Linked DNA regions of Homo sapiens. The protein of the gene in region 3 purifies or fractionates together with the protein of the main gene of each other region. This does not show direct contact. Each region holds a gene or a part of one and is shown on either strand. Other genes may lie near its edges.

Region 1 (4,456 bases), on a different chromosome or scaffold from region 3:
TTGCAGGCTGTTCGCTTTCCACTCAGCACTGGGGAACCTCTTTCTCTTTCTCCAGAATCTAATGTGATGCAGGTGGTCCCCAACTTTTAACAATTTTGTAACTTGGTGCAAAGGTGATGCACATTCAGCAGAAACTTTACTTCGAGTCCCATGCTTTTCCCTTTCAGTGCAGGATTCAATGAGTTACATGAGATAATCAGCACTGTATTCCACAATAGGCTTTGTGTTCAATGCTTTTGCCCAACTGTAGGCTAACACAAGTGTTCTGAGCACGTGAATCGGATGGCTTTACTCTCACCTCTGCTGGACCTTGGGCCACCTGCAGATCTGATGGAGGAAGGGGTACTGCCTCAACCCAAAATACGTCTTGCCTCGATGGCCCCGCCCACCTCTCTTGTCTCTTCTAGGTCCCTGAAGCTATCCGAAAATGCCAGCGTGCTGGCATCACAGTCCGCATGGTGACTGGGGACAACATCAACACGGCCCGGGCCATCGCAGCCAAATGCGGCATCATCCAGCCCGGGGAGGACTTCCTGTGCCTAGAAGGGAAGGAGTTCAACCGGCGGATCCGCAATGAGAAAGGCGAGGTAGCACCCGGCTGTCTGCCACCCCAGACCCCCCTTCTCCTCACCCCAGCCCCCTGCGTGCCCGCCTTAGCTCTGCAGCGTCCTTGTGCTTCCCCTCCCCAGATAGAACAGGAGCGGCTGGACAAGGTGTGGCCCAAGCTGAGGGTGCTGGCCCGGTCGTCTCCCACCGACAAGCACACACTGGTCAAAGGTAGCCGAGCCCCCACACCCCTTTCCTGGGGTGGCCAGCCCGAGGTTGTCTGCTTCCTGACACCAAAAGCCAGGTTCCCAAACAGGTCCCCAGGGCCTGCCTAGGAAGCTGGGTCCATTTGTCCCATTAGCCCAGAGCAGCAGGGCAGGGGCCCATGAGGGAACCAGGGTTCGGGGAGGGCTAGTGACTCACTCCAAGTCACACAGTGAGTCTCTAGAAGCAGTGGGTCTAGAGCCAGGGACCCAGGATTGTGTCCCCAGGCCCTAACCAGATCCCTATCCTCCCACCCTGGCCCTGTCACTCAGTGAGATTTGCTTACTTATTTGGGGATAGGAGATGATCCAGGTGACGGGGAGCACAGATAATTGGGACAGTCAGGACGGGGTAATCCCAAAGGGTTTTCACAGCCAACCTACCCCCATAGCTCCCTGGGCAGGGCTACACAGGGTTGTGGTGACAGATGGCCCCAGCCCTGCCCTGCCCTGATCTGTCTTCCAGGGATTATCGACAGCACCACTGGTGAGCAGCGGCAGGTGGTGGCTGTGACAGGGGATGGCACCAACGATGGGCCGGCCCTCAAGAAGGCGGACGTGGGCTTCGCCATGGTAAGCCACCTGGTGCCCGCCCAGCTCACCACGGCAGATGGGGCCTGCATCTGTCCCATGGACATTAGCTTTGTACCAGGAAGTGGGAGCCAGTGTCGGGGCAGGTTACAGAGTGCCTGAAGGTTCTTTCTTTCACATCCTGGCCACTTGGGCCTGCGTGGGCTCTGCCAGTCGGGGGACATGTGGTTAAAGGCATCTGCTGTGATGCCCAAGGTGACAGTGGGCCCCAGACATACTGTGGAGAGGAAGGGGAATGGGGGGTGGGGGCTCATCACTGATGGCATTGCCCACCCCCGTCCTCTCTAAATGGACTCTCAGCCCCAGATGAGGTGAGCAGAGTCCCCAGATGTGCTCTTCCTCTGCACTTCCTTCCTGTTGCTCACCCACTGAGCAGGGTAGCCCTGCAGACGCCACCCACATGGCTGGTTGCGGCCCCTCAGTGGCCCCACAGCCACTGAACGCAGCAACCTGGTGAGCCCCTCTCCCTGCCCTACCGAAAAGGAGTGTCACCCAGGGAACCCAGCCCAGTCCTTCCCAGCACCCGTAGCCCAGAAGGGAGCTCCAGCCCAAGCTTCGAGAGGTGGCAGCTCTCACGGGGCCAGGCTTGGGGCAGAGGAGAGGACTGCGCAGCTTGGCACAGCTGCAGCTGCGCCTCCATGGGACAGGGACTCCTCTGCAAGGAGCCGCCCCGCCCAGGGTGTCCCCATGCAGGACTTCCCAGGGCTCCTTAGCCAGCAAGCCTCTCTGGAGTGCTAAGAACAGACCACGCTGCTTGGTGGCCACGTGGTGGCAGCTGGGCTTTATGTGTAAAGCTGTGTTGATGCCATGTCATCAGCACCCTCTGTGTTTATGAGCAAAGCCCCCCCCCCCACCGTGACATGTGACAACTTACTGTTTGTAGTACAAGAATGTGTTGCATTAAAAAAAAGCAACAAAAAACAGTGCTGTTCTTGGCTTTGGGGGGCGGGGTGGGATGTTATTCAGAAGGGGAGAGCAGGGAGCCAGCCCAGGCGGGCCAGGTGATCAAGGGGGGCTGGGGAAGGGGCCCCCACAAACACTCTGTGTGAGTGTGTGTGTCACCCCCCCAGGGCATCGCAGGGACCGACGTGGCCAAGGAGGCCTCCGACATCATCCTGACCGATGACAACTTCACCAGCATCGTCAAGGCAGTCATGTGGGGCCGTAACGTCTATGACAGCATCTCCAAGTTCCTGCAGTTTCAACTGACGGTCAATGTGGTGGCTGTGATCGTGGCCTTCACAGGTGCCTGCATTACTCAGGTGGGTACTGGGGGCTGCCATGCCCCAGCTAGGACACCTGGGCTCAGGCCTGAGGGCCAGATTGTGAGAGTGAGGGTTTTGTTTTCTTTGCTGCAGATTATTTTAATTGAGATCAAATTCATATGCCAAAAATTCACCATTTTCAAGTACATAATTCAGCACTCGAATTTGTAGGACATTCACCACGTTGTGCAACCATTGGCTCTATCTAGTTCCAGAAGATTGTCATCATCTTAAAAAGAAACCCTGTGCTCTTGAGCAGTCATTTCCCCATTTCTCCCCCAAACATCCCAGCCCCCGGCAACCACTCACAGGCTTCCTGGGTCTATGGATTTGCCTGTTCCGGACATTTCATTCCTATGGGATCAAATAATATGTGGCCTCTTGTGTCTGGCATCTCGCTTAGCACCGTGTTTTCAGGCTCACACACACCGTAGCATAGGGCAGGACTTTCTGCCTTTTCATGGCCTCATAACACTCCACGGCACAGACTGCCACATTATGTATGTCTGCCCTGATGGACACATGGCTCGTTCCCACTTTTTGGCTCTTGTGAATGGTGCTGCCAGGAGCATCTGTGTATGAGTTTCTGCGTGGGCTATGCGTCCCATGGGAACCCTTTCTCAACAGTCCCATTTTCCCCATTGGTGAGTGTCCAGATTTTCTTCACCCCGCCTTAGAAAGGGGGTGTTTAAATTGCCTGCTGATCAACTTGGTCTTTTCAAAACAATTTTTTAAATTGAGATAAAAAATCACATAACAAACTTCAACAGAACCATTTTAACCTTTTGAAAGTACATAACTCCGAGGTTTATATCCCTCCACTGTCTATTCCCAGAACATTCTCATCACCCCAAAAGGACACCCAGACCCCGTGAGCAGTCACTCTCTACTCCCCAAACCCCAGCCCCTGGCACCCACTCATCTGCTTTCTCTCTCTATGGATTTGTCAGTTCTGGAAGTTTCCTATGAATGGAATCAGACAGTACGTGGCCTTGTGTGTCTGGCTTCTGTGAGGCTGATTTTTAACGAACAACTCAGAGGAGCTGAGAAGGAAGGTCCAGTTCAGAGTTTCTGCCTCCTCCTGCCCCTGAGGTGCAGGAGACAAGGAGAGCAGCCCTCACTCTGTTGCCCCAAATGGCAGACCCCATCGTCGGGCTGTTTTGTGGTCTGGGGTTTTTCACCTCCTGCGAGGGATTTGGAGCACACCTGCTGCCAGGTGAGAGAAGGGAGGCGGGCACGTGACAGCCCAAAGAAAACGCCCCACTAGCGTAAAGGCGATGTAGGGATGGAGATGTCTGTTTTCATGGGCATGAAATCCTGGTGATGTGGACCCCATGAGGAGCCCCCAGGAGCTACTGGGTTTCCACCCCCAACCTTCCCGGGCAGGCGGCCCATGGAAAGGTGACTGCCTCCTCTCCATAGGACTCTCCTCTCAAAGCCGTGCAGATGTTGTGGGTGAACTTGATCATGGACACATTTGCCTCTCTGGCCCTGGCGACGGAGCCACCCACAGAGTCGCTGCTGCTGCGGAAGCCGTACGGCCGCGACAAGCCCCTCATCTCCCGCACCATGATGAAGAACATTCTGGGCCACGCCGTGTACCAGCTCGCCATCATCTTCACCCTGCTGTTTGTCGGTAGGCTGGCCAGGGGCACCCGGGAGGACTTCAGGACACTGTTGCCACCACCTCGGGCTCAGATTCTGTCTGGTGTGTCTCCACCTGTGTCTCCGCACCCAGTACGGGGTGGGACGCTGCACTTCCTGACTGGACAGCACACAGGGGAAGGAGCA
Region 2 (4,456 bases), on a different chromosome or scaffold from region 3:
CATCAATTCATATAAACAATTGAAAGCAGGGCTGAGCCAGTGACAGAAAACAAAAAAAAACAATGAAAGCAGAGTTTTTTCAAGCTACAGGTTAAAAGCAACACACTAGAAGGAAAAACGTGTTATTATTATATCTTATGTGCACACGTATACATGTTGAATAATGTCTCAGAAAGCGGGAATGCTAAATCTAAAATGTGAATGCATTTGTACATCTGAGAGACATTTCCAAAGCAACTTCTACAAAGGTTTGTACTACATTGCATTCCTAACAGCAAAGTATAAAAATGCCTGATAATACTTGAATCTCACCCACTGAGCCTATGATCAAACCTTGGGATGTTTGCCAATCTAATGGATTAAAAAAAAAAAAGGTATCCCCTGTAGTTTTCATTTGCACTTACCTTATCATGAATGAGGTTAAATGTGAAATGTCTATTGTTGTTCTTTACCCATTTTTCTTTCTAGTTATCAGTCATCTTCTTATCAATTTGTAAGTGCACTTTACGCAAGAAGGAAATGACCCCTTTTCTATGATCTAGGTTGTAAATAATTTCCCAGTTTGTCTTTCAGTCTTGATTTTACTCTGGTGTATTTTTCCTTTAATTCAGAAATACTTTATCCTTGACTGAAGTGATAAGATTTTATTTTCTTTATGGTATCTGGGTAAGTCAGAAAGGTCAATCTTTCAAAAGGAGACAATTTGTAATGAATACACATAGGCAGTGACCACCCCAAAGCCACAGTCAGCTCACATGTAGCAGAGGATAAGCAGGGCAGTGGGAGGTTGGAACCCAGGCAATGCAACTCACAGAAGGTTTTGGCTTCCTCAAGGCACTTATGATGCGGCTGGGAAGAGAGAAAGGCAGAGCCCTGTGCTAAGTGCCAGCACTGTAACACACGCCATCAGTGCCACAGCAGTACTGCAAGAGCAGGGGCAGGAGAAGGCACAGTGCTATGCTGGGAAAGGTGCCGCCTGTCACTGTGGGAGAACAGTAGCCTTGGATGAGGGCAACAAAAGAGAGGGTGGTTTCCTGTGGAAAGCAGGATTGGCCACACAAAGCCTTCAACTACTGAATATGCATGGGGTGCAGGAGGACTCAGTCAGCCAGCTTCACCACGGCCGAGGCTTCACGGCACAGCACAGGAGGAAGCGAAGGCAAGGCAGAGATCACGGCTGGAACGCATTCCTCCGATGGCAGGCAACAGAGGCTGGCCTTACCCATGAGCTCTGCTGAACCAAGGGGTTCTTAGACAGGAGGGGACATGATAAAAGTAGCAGCATTTAAACAAGGTTATTATGGGGAGTCTATCTGTTTTTCATTGGTTATAAACACTTGTTTAATCTTAAACTATGTTTAATAAACCAACGACAATCTTGATGAACTGTCTGTTTTCAAATGCAAAAATAGGTAAGTAACTCCTTCGATAGTTTAAAAGAGAAAAATATTAATATGCCACTTTTCTGTAAGAAGGGAGGGATGGTAGAATAAGAAGATATACTTAAATTTGCACATACAACGCACAACAAATTAAGAAAACTGGTTATCGCTAGGAAGGAGAAGGGAAGGCCAGGTAGCAGGGTGGAAAGCAAGGAAGACGTTTCACTGTGCATTTCGTACAGTTTTAATTTTTAAACTGATGCATTACATATTCTAAACATTTACATCTAAAATGAAAAACACCTTAGTTTTCTACTTTACAATTACTCTGTGTTATATACAATTATGAGAACAATCATCTTTCAGATATAAATATGTTACATTTTTTTTTCCTTCGACCATAACCAATTTTTATACTAGCTAGCCCCTGGGCCTCACTCCTCCAGCCTCCCTCCCTAACTTTCTGCAGTAGACAGCTGCTCTCTCTTTCAGTCAAAGAGCTTTTCTTTTAAAACCTGAGTGACCCTCATCTTATCATTATTTAACAGACTAATCATTTGACAACTATAATCTCACTGAACTTTGGAAAAATCCCTAACATCCAAAGATGACACACAGACAGTGTTAGATAATGTAACGGTGCACAGTACTACGTCTAGAAGGCCTACGTGTAAGGTTGGGCAGAATAATTTCTATCCTTGCTCACTTCTGAATGCTTTAATAATGTCTACTTTTATAAATGTTTTGTTGTAGTTAAAAATATTACTCTATAAAATTTCCAAGGCACATCAACTTCAGACGAATGCTTCAGGTGAGGGTTTCCATGTAAAACGTGCTGGAGGCTCATATTTTGAACATCTGCCCTCAGTAGATCCTACTGATACAAGCACACTGACATACATAGTGGCTCAACCCCAAACAGCTGATGAGGTAAAAACACAAAGCTCATTTGGGAGGCCGAGGTGCGTGGATCACCTGAGGTAAGGAGTTTGAGACCAGCCTGGCCAACAAGGTGAAATCGCATATCTACTAAAAATACAAATATTAGTCATGCATGGTGGCACACGCATGTAGTTCCAGCTACTCAGGAGGCTGAGGCAGGAGAATCGTGTGAACGTGGGAGGCGGAGGTTGCAGTGAGCCAAGATTGCGCCACTGCACTCCAGCCTGGGCGACAGAGCGAAACTCTTGTCTCAAAACAAAAAACGAAAAACAAAAAAACCCCATGAAGCCTAGTGTTCTCTCTCAACCCCAGCTCAAACAGATATTTTGAAAAGGAAACAGAAACTCCACACACTTCCCTGTTTGCCTATTTCCATGTTTACATTTCTCTAACAGCTAACACTATGTTTGGTTAGTTTAACTAAGTTATCCTGCTCACTTAAAATTCTATTTTTTTCTGGTTATATCTGACAATAGCTCAAAGGTTCTTAAAACCTAACATGTTTGGGGAAAAAAAAAGGTCACACTTAACTGCATTTCTTCTTGTCACAATGACACCCAAATTTAATAAATATTTTACGAAAAATACAGCAAAAGGGCAGCACTGACTAATAACGTGCACTCAGTACTGCCGGGCGTGCTCCTTCTTCACGTCTTCCTCCCTTTTACAGAGCTTTCCTTTTAAGTGTGAACTTTGAGTAGAAAGAGGCTGGATTAATGATAATTGGTGAGTCCACAGGACTCACACGACAGCCAAGAAATACCACACTTTGCAGGACTAATGAAATCTCCACTGTTACATCTTAATAACATCTTGAAAAATATACCGGGTAAATGTAATGAAGGAAAAAAGTACACTTAACCTACTTTGTAAAACTGAATTCTACATAAACATGTGCACTGTATATACCGTGTACAGGCATTTCAGGTGCGTGAACACACTTACCCGTCATGGTCGGTGACTCTCTTCGCTGCCCTCCATCGTCTTTCCCTTCATAAACCACCGTAACATCATAAATTGCATCTAAATAATTCTTCATGCAATCAAAAGCAACGTGAGTTGCCTTTATTCGTGGTGTTAGCACATGTTTTAATACTGCAAGGCCTAGAAGTCAATTCAGTGCCGTCATTAATTAGTTACAAAACACCTCCACAATATACTGTTTAACATCTAAATTATTTTTAAATTCCCTCAAACACACACAACAGAATCTATTAATTCCACAACCTCATATATTTAGGGCTCTAAGTTTAGAAAGCACTCTCACTTGCCTTTTTCTGTTTAAATCAATATTCATTTGCTATATATTGATCAAATATCTACATGTACAAGTCACCGTGTTGGAAGTTTATGGCCTAGCGGAAACGCTTCAATCTAGTAGACCCCGGCAAGGGTAAATATTAGTGCCCTCGCTTCTGGCCACTGAACAAAGGTGATAGCATCTTGCCCATGGTGACTCAAGATTTCCTAGAAATACAGTCACACAGCACATGGCCTCCTGTTTCTGGCTTCTTTCGCTCAGCATGGATCTGAGGTTCATCTGTGTGGCTGCAGGACTCAGTGCTTCATTCCTTTTTATGGCTGAATAGTTAGTATTCCACTGTGTGAACAGATCACATTTTGTTTACCTATTAATTGCTTCATGGACATTTGGGTTGCATCCATACTTTGGCTATTATGAATAATGCTGCTATGAACATTCATAGGAATTGCATATGAAGGCTGCAGGTGAACAAGCTTTTGTATGAACATACGATTTCAATCCTCTTGGGTATATCTGACATATTTTTAAAAGGTTCTTTAGCTGGGGGACTACTGCAATTATCCAGAACAAATCCCATTCATTAGGTTCCTACTAGGGTTAAGGATTTGTTCTTCTCTCCTTCCTATTACCTCCCTTTTCCTTGATTAAAATATTTACTGACAATTTAACAGAAAACAGTAGCTCTCAATAAGTGACATGAAAATAGACTATAAAAAACTAGTCTAGATTTTCTACTGGCCTCTCTGGAGGGAAAGTAGCTGAGTAAGGAAGAACAGCTATTACATGGTGGGACTGTCCCACACAAGAGGTTTTAAAATGCAGGGTGGTGTGGGAAAGACAAAGATTCCCACAAGCACGTATCTGACTT
Region 3 (5,412 bases):
CAGGCATGCACCACTGTGCCTGGCTAAAGGAAATACATAGACAGCACTGGCCTAAAGTATAAACCTGTCCAGCCTTTTCGGGAGGGTAATTTGGCAGGATGCATTAGACTGAAATTTCCACATGCCCAAAGATACAAAAAGAGGAGCCACAGAGGCCGGGCACAATGGCTCACGCTTGTAATCCCAGCACTTTGGGAGGCCGAGGCAGGCGGATCGTGAGGTCAGGAGATCAAGACCATCCTGGCTAACGTGGTGAAACCCCATCTCTACTAAAAATAGAAAAAATTAGCCAGATGTGGTGGCGGGCGCCTGTAGTCCCAGCTACTCGGGAGGCTGAGGCAGCAGAATGGCATGAACCCGGGAGGCGGAGCGTGCAGTGAGCCAAGATTGTGCCACTGCATTCCAGCCTGGGCGACAGAGCGAGACTCCATCTAAAAAAAAAAAAAAAAAAAAAAGCCACACAACAAGAACTACAAATGGCTCTTAATAATAATAAAAAAAGTCTTTATTCTCACTCTTAATAAGAGCTCAAACTAAAGCACACTGAGATTCTGTTTTTTGTCTATCGGAAAGGTAAGAATCCACACACTGGGTAACATACTGAGTCGGTGGGGCTACGGGGAAAGATGTAGTCTCCCACACTGCCTATGGGAGTCAATCTGTCTTCCTGTAGAAAGCAACTAGGCAATACACAAAAAATTACAAATGCACATACCCTTTGACCAAGCAATTCCATCTGTGGGAATTCTCCCTACAGATATAGTTCATAAATAAGTAAAATGCTACACATAAAGTGTATCCAAGGTATTCCTTGCTCTGTTAACGGCTTGCTGAGTGACTGGGTTTACTTCTCTGTCAAACAGGAGGACAATCTCTAGCCTCACTTCAAAAAAGGTCCAAGAGCCTTCTTTTTTTTTTAAAGAAAAGTGACAGGGTCTCTCTCTGTTGCCCAAGCTGGAGTGCAGTGGCAGGATCATAGCTCACTGCAGCCTTGAACTCCTGGCATCAAGTGATCCTCCTGCCTTGGCCTCCCAAAATGCTGAGATTATAGGCGTGAACCACCACACCCAGCCCCATAGGAGTCTTAAAGCAAATAAGATATGGGATGCGAAACAGCCTGGCAAACTAAAGTACTGTGCCTGTATTGGGGGTTGTGACTATCAGGGAGAGGTGAGTGAGGAGGCCCCTAACCACACCCTTGCCTATGCATGGCTGAGGCAGCCCAGGCTCTGGGCTGGAAGGGAGACCCTCCCCTCTGGAGCCACTGGAGGCAGCTCCATGTGAGTCACTTGGACAGCTTTGCTAGGAGGTGGGAGTGGGGTGGGTGAACAATACCCACATGAGAGGCCCAGTTTCCTTCCTTCCCTATTCTCTCCCAACCCTTGGCTTCTGCTTTTGCCAGCAGTGTGCTGTGGGACTTGGGCAAGTTCCTCATCCCCTCTGAGCATCTCCACACATTCAATACATTTCCTGTGTAGCAGTAGTATGGGTACAAAAATGAGTTCCTGATCTTGAAACACTCACAGGCAGGTAGGTTAATACTGTGACATGATACATATTACAGGGAACACGTATTCTATTTTATGGAATGCACAGCAAAACTGGCTGGGCGTGGTGGCTCATGCCTGTAATCCCAGCACTTTGGGAGATGGAGGCGGGCGGATCACCTGAGGTCAGGATTTCGAGATCAGCCTGGCCAACATGGTGAAACCTTGTCTCTACTAAAAATACAAAAATTAGCTGGGCGTGCTGGTGTGCATCTGTAATCCCAGCTACTTGGGAGGCTGAGGGAGGAGAATAGCTTGAACCTGGGAGGTGGAGGTTGCAGTGAGCCGAGACTGAGCCACTGAACTCCAGCCTGGGTGGACAGCGAGACTCTGTCTCAAAAAAAAAAAAAGACCAGCCTGGCCAACATGGTGAAACCCCGTCTCTACTAAAAATACAAAAATTAGCCGGGTGTGATATTGTGCGCCTATGGTCCCAGCTACTCAGGAGGTTGAGGCAGGAGAATTGCTTGAACCCGGGAGGTGGAGGCCGTAGTGAGTGGGGATCGTGCCACTGAACTCCAGCCTCGGCAACAGAGCGAGACTCTGTCTCATAAAAAAAAAAAAGCCCCCCTCCCAAAAAAAACCCCAAACAGGCTATTATAATGTAGTGTGACACATGATGCAATAGACATGTATATCACTGTGACACACAGTATGAACATCAGCAGTTATGAAGGGACTCTGAGATCAGGAAGTCCATTTGGACTCCCAGCTCTACTTCCCAGCTGTGGGACCTTGGGAAAGTGATTTTTTTTTTCTCTAAGCCTCAATTTCCTCAGCTGTAAAACAAGTTGTGAGGATTCTGATTTCTGCTTTGGAAGTACTCAGCATTGTATCTCGAGTCATCATTTAAACCGTATACACCATTTGTATCATTATTATGCAAAACGGAATCACGACACAGCCAACAAGACACTATTTCTGCAGAGAAGTAAGGGAGTCAGAGGTGGCAAGAGCAGGTACCACTTAAGCAAGGCCTTGATGGTCAAGCACAGTGTCTGGTAGTCTGGAGCCAGACAAATGCTGACTGGGTTTAGGAGTCAGCTTGTCAGTTTTTTTTTTTTGTTTTTTTTTAGTGGAGTTTTGCTCTTTTTGCACAGGCTGGAGTGCAATGGCACAATCTCAGCTCACTACAAATCAAGTGATTCTCTGCCTCGGCCTCCTGAGTAGCTGGGATTATAGGCACCTGCCACCACACCCAGCTAATTTTGTATTTTTAGTAGAGATGGGGTTTCACCATGTTGGCCAGGCTGGTCTCAAACTCCTGACCTCAGATGATCTGCCTGCCTTGGCCTCCCAAAGTGCTGGGATTACAGGTGTGAGCCACCATGCCCGGCTTGAGGAGTGTGCTTTGTGTACAAGGAAAGGAAGTGCTTATCAGGCAGAAAGATATGCACATGCAGAGGCTCAGGGCTGTCAAAGGACACGCAGGACTCTGTGGCTTCACCTACAAACCAGCATTATGGCTCATTTCCACATATTCCTTTCAATTCAGCTCAGCACCCTGGGTGGGAAGAGGCCTAATCTTATTCAGTGACAAACCAAGGTTGGACAGATCCTCTCCATTACACAGAGGACTCTGGTCTCCTTTGCGGGTGACTTATAAATATCCCATGCTGCAATGCTGAGTCAGAATGGGAGACTGGACTGTAATCCCAGCACTTTGGGAGGTCAAGGTGGGCAGATCGGTTGAGCCCAGGAGTTTGAGACCAGCATGGGCAACATGGAGATACTCTGCCTCCATTAAAAAAAAAAAAAAAAAAAGAATGGGAGACCTGAAATCTGACGATAATAGTAATAACAATAACATTACTGCACTGTTCTAGGTACTTTACATGTTTTCATCCTCACAAAAACCCCACAAAGCAGGTACTTTTTTTTTTTTTTTTTGAGATGGAGTCTCGCTCTGTTGCCCAGGCTGGAATGCAGTGGTGCAATCTTGGCTCACTGCAACCTCCGCCTCTTGGGTTCAAGCAATTCTCATGTCTCAGCCTCCCGAGTAGCTGGGACTACAGGCATGTACCACCACGCCCAGCTAATTTTTTGTATTTTTAGTAGAGACAGGGTTTCACCATGTTAGTCAGGATGGTCTGTCACAAGATCCTGACCTTGTGATCTGCCTGCCTTGGCCTCCCGAAGTGCTGGGATTACAGGCGTGAGCCATCACGCCTGGCCAGCAGGTACTTTTAATAGCTCTTTTACAGATGAGGAAGCGGAGGTCTAGAGAGGTGAAGTAACTTGCTTAGTGTCACACAGCTGGTGAGTGGCAGAGCCAGGACTGAAACTGAGGCAGTCCAGTTCCAGACCCCAAACTCTTGGGAGCTGTTTCCTAGAAGATTTCTATCTTTCCTATCTGGAAATTTCGGTTGGAAAGTTTTAACAGGAAGATACTTGGGAAGCCTGCAACCTTTCTGAGGAACAGAATCCTGAAGGTAACTGAACAGCTAATCTTTGTAGTTACAAAAATACTAAAAAGTTGCTAGGATTCTTTACCAATCCAATTGCGATTTTTTAACCAGATTTGTGTATGTAAATACAATAGATCCTGCAACATAAAACACAATTAGAAAGTGGGGGAAAAACCTGACACAAACAGCAGAAGTAAATGTAGCTTCCAGTGACATTCTGGATGTTGTTATCAGAGCGGAAACAAAAGCTGTAAGAGAGGACAGATGCCTGCTTCAAGCCATTGGCACGGTTCAAGCTCTCGGAGCACTGCTTCTACGCCATGCCCTGGAAATGATCTGAAATTCATGGGCCATTCTGTTACTGTTGACCCAGCTGGAGACTCCAGAGTCTCCATTCTTTACCACAACATCCAGTCACTCAGCTCTCCAAGGTTACCTTTCCTAACTTCCCACCCCAATCCTTTGGCCCTCATTGCTGCATTGCTGTCTTCACAACCCCTGCACCAACATTACACTTCTCCCTCCTGCCTATCACCCACCCTGCCATGAGCTCTTTCTAAAGCCTACACCTGATTGTATCACGTATCTGCTTAAAAACCTCTGGAGAAGCCAGGCACAGTGGCTCACACCTGTAATCCCAGCACTATGGGAGGCCGAGGTGGGCGGATCACTTGAGGTCAAGAGTTCGAGACCAGCCTGGCCAACATGGTGAAACCCTGTCACTACTAAAAATATAAAAATTAGCCAGGCGTAGTGGCACGCGCCTGTAATTCCAGCTACTTGGGAGGCTGAGGCATGAGAATTGTTTGTACCTGGCAGGCGGAGGTTGCAGTGAGCCAAGATCACACCACTGCACTCCAGCCTGGCCAAAGAGTGAGACTCTAACAAATGAACAAACAAACAAACAAAAACAACAACAAAAAAACAAAACCTCTGGAGAACAGACTACTCCACAGCCATTAAACAAGAATTGAGGTCATTGCTGGTGGGAAAGTAAACTGATACAACCTCTATAGTGGATCATATGGTAAAATCTATCTAAATAAAAAGTGTGGGCTGGGAACAGTGGCTCACGCCTGTAATCCCAGCACTTTAGGAGGCCAAGGCGGGCAGATCACCTGAGGTCAGGAGTTTGAGACCAGCCTGGCCAACATGGTAAAACCCCATCTGTATGAAAAACATAAAAATTAGCCAGGTGTGGTGGGTGCGCGCCTGTAATCCTGTAATCCCAGCTACTCAAGAGGCTGAGGTGGGAGAATTGCTTGAACCCAGGAGGCAGAGGTTGCAGTGAGCTGAGATGGCACCACCGCACTCACACTCAGCCTGGGCAACAGAGCGAGACTGTCTCAAAAAAAAAAAAAAAAAAAGTGTGCATAGCCTTCGACCCACCAATTTTGAGAAATTTATCCCACAAATACACAGACAAGTGTGAAATAAAAATGTATAATGTTATTAAT
Region 4 (4,456 bases), on a different chromosome or scaffold from region 3:
TGGCTTGACTGTGTTCTAGACTTCCTCTGCCTGGCCTGTAAAGTTGGAGGGGTGGGGGGCTGTCACAGAAACCACTCTCCTTTCTTGTCCCTACAGAAGAATGTGACTCTGCAATGTGTGTTCTGGGTTGAAGACCCCACATGTGAGTATGCAGGGGTCTCTGGGCTGGACAAGTATCTGGAAGAGAAATAGAGTCCTGGGGGGTGGGGGAGGTGGGGTTAATCACCGAGGGCTTCCTGGAGAAAGGAGGACTTTGAAGAGAGAGCGATGGCAGGCTATGAGTAGGCCGGGTGGAAGAATGACACAGTCGTGCTTTTGGGGGTGGACACAGTGGGGTCCTGGAGGACTGGACTTGATTGGAGCCCCGTGCTGTCCCCTCCTCAGTGAGCAGCCCGGGGCATTGGAGCAGTGCTGGGTGTGAGACCGTCAGGAGAGAAACCCAAACATCCTGCTTCTGCAACCACTTGACCTACTTTGCAGTGCTGATGGTGAGGGTCCCTGCTCCCACCTCGCAGCCACACCCCAGGCCGTGTGCTTGTTCTGTGCAAGCACTTTTCATATATTCAGTCATTTATTCCTCATAACAGCTCTCCAAGGTAGCTTCTATTGTTGTCCCATTTTATAGATGAGGAAATGGAGGCTCAGAGAGGTTAAGCAATTTACCCGTGGCCACACAGCTAGTCAGTGAAAGAGCTGGTTTGTAGAGCCCCTGCTCTTTATTCCCAAATTTTGGTGTGTACGAAAATGCAGATTCCTGGCCCTCACCTAGGGTTCTGATTTGGCAGTGATGGGGCCAAGAGTGTTTCTAATGAGGCCCCTGAGGTGGCCTCCAGTGCCCCCAAGACCTCAGAATTCATGCTCCCAGGACTGTAGGATTCTGCCTGTGGGTATCCACCTGGGGCTTGAACACCCCTGGGTGTGGGAATCTCATTCCCTCACAGGAAACCTATTCCCATGTTAAATGTTATAGAAGAATAATCAATGCCAGGACAGAATAGGGGTTCTCTCATGAAGGGTTCTTGGCCTCTGTGGGTCAGGAAGCCGCTTGAGAATGTGGTCAAATCTAAAGATGCCCCCACTCCAGAAAAATGCACTTATGGGACCACATTCTGCTCAGTTGGGAGAGGGGGTTCTTAGGCTTCCGAGGCCCACCAGGGACCCCAGGTTAGCCCCTCACGCAGGGCAAGCCTCCAGGTTGTGTGGGGGACACAGAGGCCAGCTCTCTCCTGTCTCCTGGGGCCAGGTCTCCTCGGTGGAGGTGGACGCCGTGCACAAGCACTACCTGAGCCTCCTCTCCTACGTGGGCTGTGTCGTCTCTGCCCTGGCCTGCCTTGTCACCATTGCCGCCTACCTCTGCTCCAGGTGAGGCCTGAAAGGGGTGGGACAGGGGAGGGGACCCTCCATTGCACACACCTCCACCAGGGCGCCGCACACATCTCCGGTCATGGCCCGCCCGCATGACCTGGAACTGTGTGTGTGGTTAGGGGAGCTGTTTGGGGTAAGCTGACCCTTGGGGGCCACGTCTCCTCCTCAGATCAGTGGTGTTTGGATAACATAGTATTTACAAATTTTAGCTGTCGACATTGTATTTATTTATTTTTATTTTTATTTTATTATTATTATTTTTTTGAGACAGAGCCTTGCCTCTGTCGCCCAGGCTGGAGTGTAGTAGCATGATCTCGGCTCACTGCAACCTCTGCCTCCCGGGTTCAAGTGATTCTTGTGCCTCAGCCTCCTGAGTAGTTGGGACTACTGGCGCCTGCCACCACACCTGGCTAATCTGTATATTTTTAGTAGAGACGGGGTTTCACCATGTTGCTCAGGCTGGTCTCGAACTCCTGACCTCAAGTGATCCACCCACCTCAGCCCCCCGAAGCGCTGGGATTACAGGCATGAGTCACTGTGCCAGGCTAATTGTCAACATTTAAAATTGAGAGAGTCCACCTAAGAATCTGTTTCTTTCCTAGAGTAAGACAGGAAAGCAAAATAAAAAACTTAAAAAAGGAAAGATTTTTCATTTCTGCCTTTGAATAAGCAGATTTGTGAGAGCACTGGGTGGACACAATAATATCACAGCGGTAATGATCATACTTAACGTGTGTCAAACTTCCCGTGTGCCATGCACTGTTCTAAGTGTTTTACATGTGTGAACTCAATTCATCCTCACAACAGCCCTATGAAGGAACACTCAGAGAGGGTAAGTGACTTGCTTGAGGTCACACAGCAAGGAAGTGGCAGAGGTCAGATTGTCAGTGCTTGGCTTGGCCTAAATTGGGGTCCACTTGCCCTCAGCGCTGAACCCATTTGGGTAGAGGAGAGGCACCCTCGGTTCTCACTGTCCCCAGCCACGAGGAAGGAGAGGAAAGTGAAGCTGTATTTATGCGTGTGCACAAGCACGTGTGTGCCTATATGACTGTCCTGTGTGTGCACAGCTGTGTACCTGGGGAGCTAAGTAGGTGATGGTGATGAGGAAGGACAGCTGGGTGATGAGATGGGCTCGGCGGAAGGCTGGGGGTGGAGGCAGAAGTCCTCAACACCCAGTTGCTCACAAACATGCCCAAGGACACAGCACAGGAACCCTTAGGAACTGAGCACCTTATCTGTGTCAGATGCTTTGTGTCAGTGTAACTCTCACCCCAACCCTATGAGGGTACCATCCTCCCACTTCACAGATAGGCAAACTGAGAGTCTCAAGGGGAGGGGACCAGCTGAAGATGGTGCCATGAGTTAGGGGCAGGGCAGGGTGGGACTCCAGGATGGTGACACTGGGGCCTGCATGTTCTGCTGCACCCTCTAGGGCCATGTAGAATCCTGGAGTGGGGGTGGGGTGGGGTGTGCACACATTGACTTGCAAACCTCAGACAGACCGATGCGGGCAGCCCACACTCAGACTCACAGGTGCACAGTTGTGCAGACAGACGGGAAGACACAGAATGTGGATGGCATGGATTCTCCAACATGGTGAAAATGCCAAAGTGTTTCCGCTCTGACTTTGAGAGTATCTGGTTTATTACTGTGGTTGTCTTCCTCGCTCTGCCTGGCTGAGGCTTCTGTTAAACGTGCACGTGGTGCCTGAGTCTGTGGGTGCTGGGCACACAGTAGGTGCACAGGGGGATGTGGGGAACAGTTTGGCTGCAGCCACAGGAATAGGATAGGGGCCATGTATGACTGCATGTGTGTGTCGGGGTGGGGGGCAGTCTGGGAAGGCTTCCTGGAGGAGATGTGGGCACACTCCCCTCTCTACCTTCCCACACTGGCCCACCAGGGTGCCCCTGCCGTGCAGGAGGAAACCTCGGGACTACACCATCAAGGTGCACATGAACCTGCTGCTGGCCGTCTTCCTGCTGGACACGAGCTTCCTGCTCAGCGAGCCGGTGGCCCTGACAGGCTCTGAGGCTGGCTGCCGAGCCAGTGCCATCTTCCTGCACTTCTCCCTGCTCACCTGCCTTTCCTGGATGGGCCTCGAGGGGTACAACCTCTACCGACTCGTGGTGGAGGTCTTTGGCACCTATGTCCCTGGCTACCTACTCAAGCTGAGCGCCATGGGCTGGGGTAAGTGGTTGGGCGGGGGGTGCCTCAGACCTGCCTCTCCCACTTGGCTCTGGCAAAACCCAGGCACCTGGTTCTGCCTCTCCACCTATCTCTCTGACTTCCCTCCTGGCCTCCTTCACTCATCCTCAGGTGTCCTTCACCTTGGCTGAATCAAGGTCCCCTTTAGGAAGAAGCAGTGAGCCCTGTCCCCAAGAAACACTTCCAAATTCTCCACATCACTCACTCCATTGCAAAGGGGATTTACGAGCAGGGCCACCGTGTGTGAATGTGCAGGTTGTGCACTGCTCAAAGGCACCCAGTTCAGAGATCAGAGGGGCTGAAATCCAGTCCCGCTCCAGTCATTTAATTCACTCGGGCTGGCAGTGGCCCTGCCTCAGGATCCCCCTGGACCTTGGGTAACAGATTCCCTGTGGCTTGGCATTTTGTTCTTGGCCAATGACTGTTCAATTCACCTGTGGCCAGCCCTCTTATGTCAGACCTACAGCCCAGGGGCTCATGATGCCACAAGTCTGTTTGGACATTGCACAGACCCCTCAACCTCCGCATGCCCCTGACTCCAGCTTGCTGCTCTTCGCGGGTTTGTCATTGGGCCCCTTCTTTGTCCATTCCCCCATTTGCATGAAATTCCTTTGGAGGTGTCTCTGTGTCAGGACTTTGTGTTTGGAGGTGGGCAGCCCCCTCTAGGGAGCTTCTAATCTCCACCGAACGGGCGAGGTCAAGGCCCAGTGCAGACGTCCCCTGATGGCAGAACTCTTGCCGTCCCTCCTAAACTGTCTGCCCCTCCCATCTCCCCTGTGACATCCAGCCCTGCAGCAGAGACCCACAGGCCTTTCTCCCAGGGGCCCCCAGGGTGACGAAGGGCAGGGCTAAGGTTGGAGGAGATGGCATCCCCTTATAGGAAACC

The links. Proteins that work in one complex are often made in the same cells at the same time.
Region 1: the proteins of HM13 (region 3) and ATP2B3 fractionate together in Homo sapiens (co-fractionation; one large-scale study listed by BioGRID). This does not show direct contact.
Region 2: the proteins of HM13 (region 3) and AGPAT5 purify together in Homo sapiens (affinity purification with mass spectrometry; one large-scale study listed by BioGRID and IntAct). This does not show direct contact.
Region 4: the proteins of HM13 (region 3) and ADGRG1 purify together in Homo sapiens (affinity purification with mass spectrometry; one large-scale study listed by BioGRID and IntAct). This does not show direct contact.

The regions. Positions count from the first base shown.
Region 1 is NC_000023.11:153,555,642-153,560,097, forward strand, and holds part of ATP2B3 (plasma membrane calcium-transporting ATPase 3), read left to right. Parts: intron 1-407; coding exon 408-587; intron 588-689; coding exon 690-777; intron 778-1,275; coding exon 1,276-1,382; intron 1,383-2,470; coding exon 2,471-2,662; intron 2,663-4,087; coding exon 4,088-4,301; intron 4,302-4,456. UniProt on the Homo sapiens protein: ATP-driven Ca(2+) ion pump involved in the maintenance of basal intracellular Ca(2+) levels at the presynaptic terminals. Uses ATP as an energy source to transport cytosolic Ca(2+) ions across the plasma membrane to the extracellular compartment.
Region 2 is NC_000008.11:6,746,642-6,751,097, reverse strand, and holds part of AGPAT5 (1-acyl-sn-glycerol-3-phosphate acyltransferase epsilon), read right to left. Parts: intron 3,429-4,456; coding exon 3,270-3,428; intron 1-3,269. UniProt on the Homo sapiens protein: Converts 1-acyl-sn-glycerol-3-phosphate (lysophosphatidic acid or LPA) into 1,2-diacyl-sn-glycerol-3-phosphate (phosphatidic acid or PA) by incorporating an acyl moiety at the sn-2 position of the glycerol backbone.
Region 3 is NC_000020.11:31,519,754-31,525,165, reverse strand, and holds part of HM13 (signal peptide peptidase), read right to left. Parts: intron 1-5,412. UniProt on the Homo sapiens protein: Catalyzes intramembrane proteolysis of signal peptides that have been removed from precursors of secretory and membrane proteins, resulting in the release of the fragment from the ER membrane into the cytoplasm.
Region 4 is NC_000016.10:57,656,130-57,660,585, forward strand, and holds part of ADGRG1 (adhesion G-protein coupled receptor G1 isoform b precursor), read left to right. Parts: intron 1-96; coding exon 97-142; intron 143-384; coding exon 385-488; intron 489-1,243; coding exon 1,244-1,362; intron 1,363-3,265; coding exon of another isoform or gene 3,266-3,283; coding exon 3,284-3,552; intron 3,553-4,456. UniProt on the Homo sapiens protein: Adhesion G-protein coupled receptor (aGPCR) for steroid hormone 17alpha-hydroxypregnenolone (17-OH), which is involved in cell adhesion and cell-cell interactions.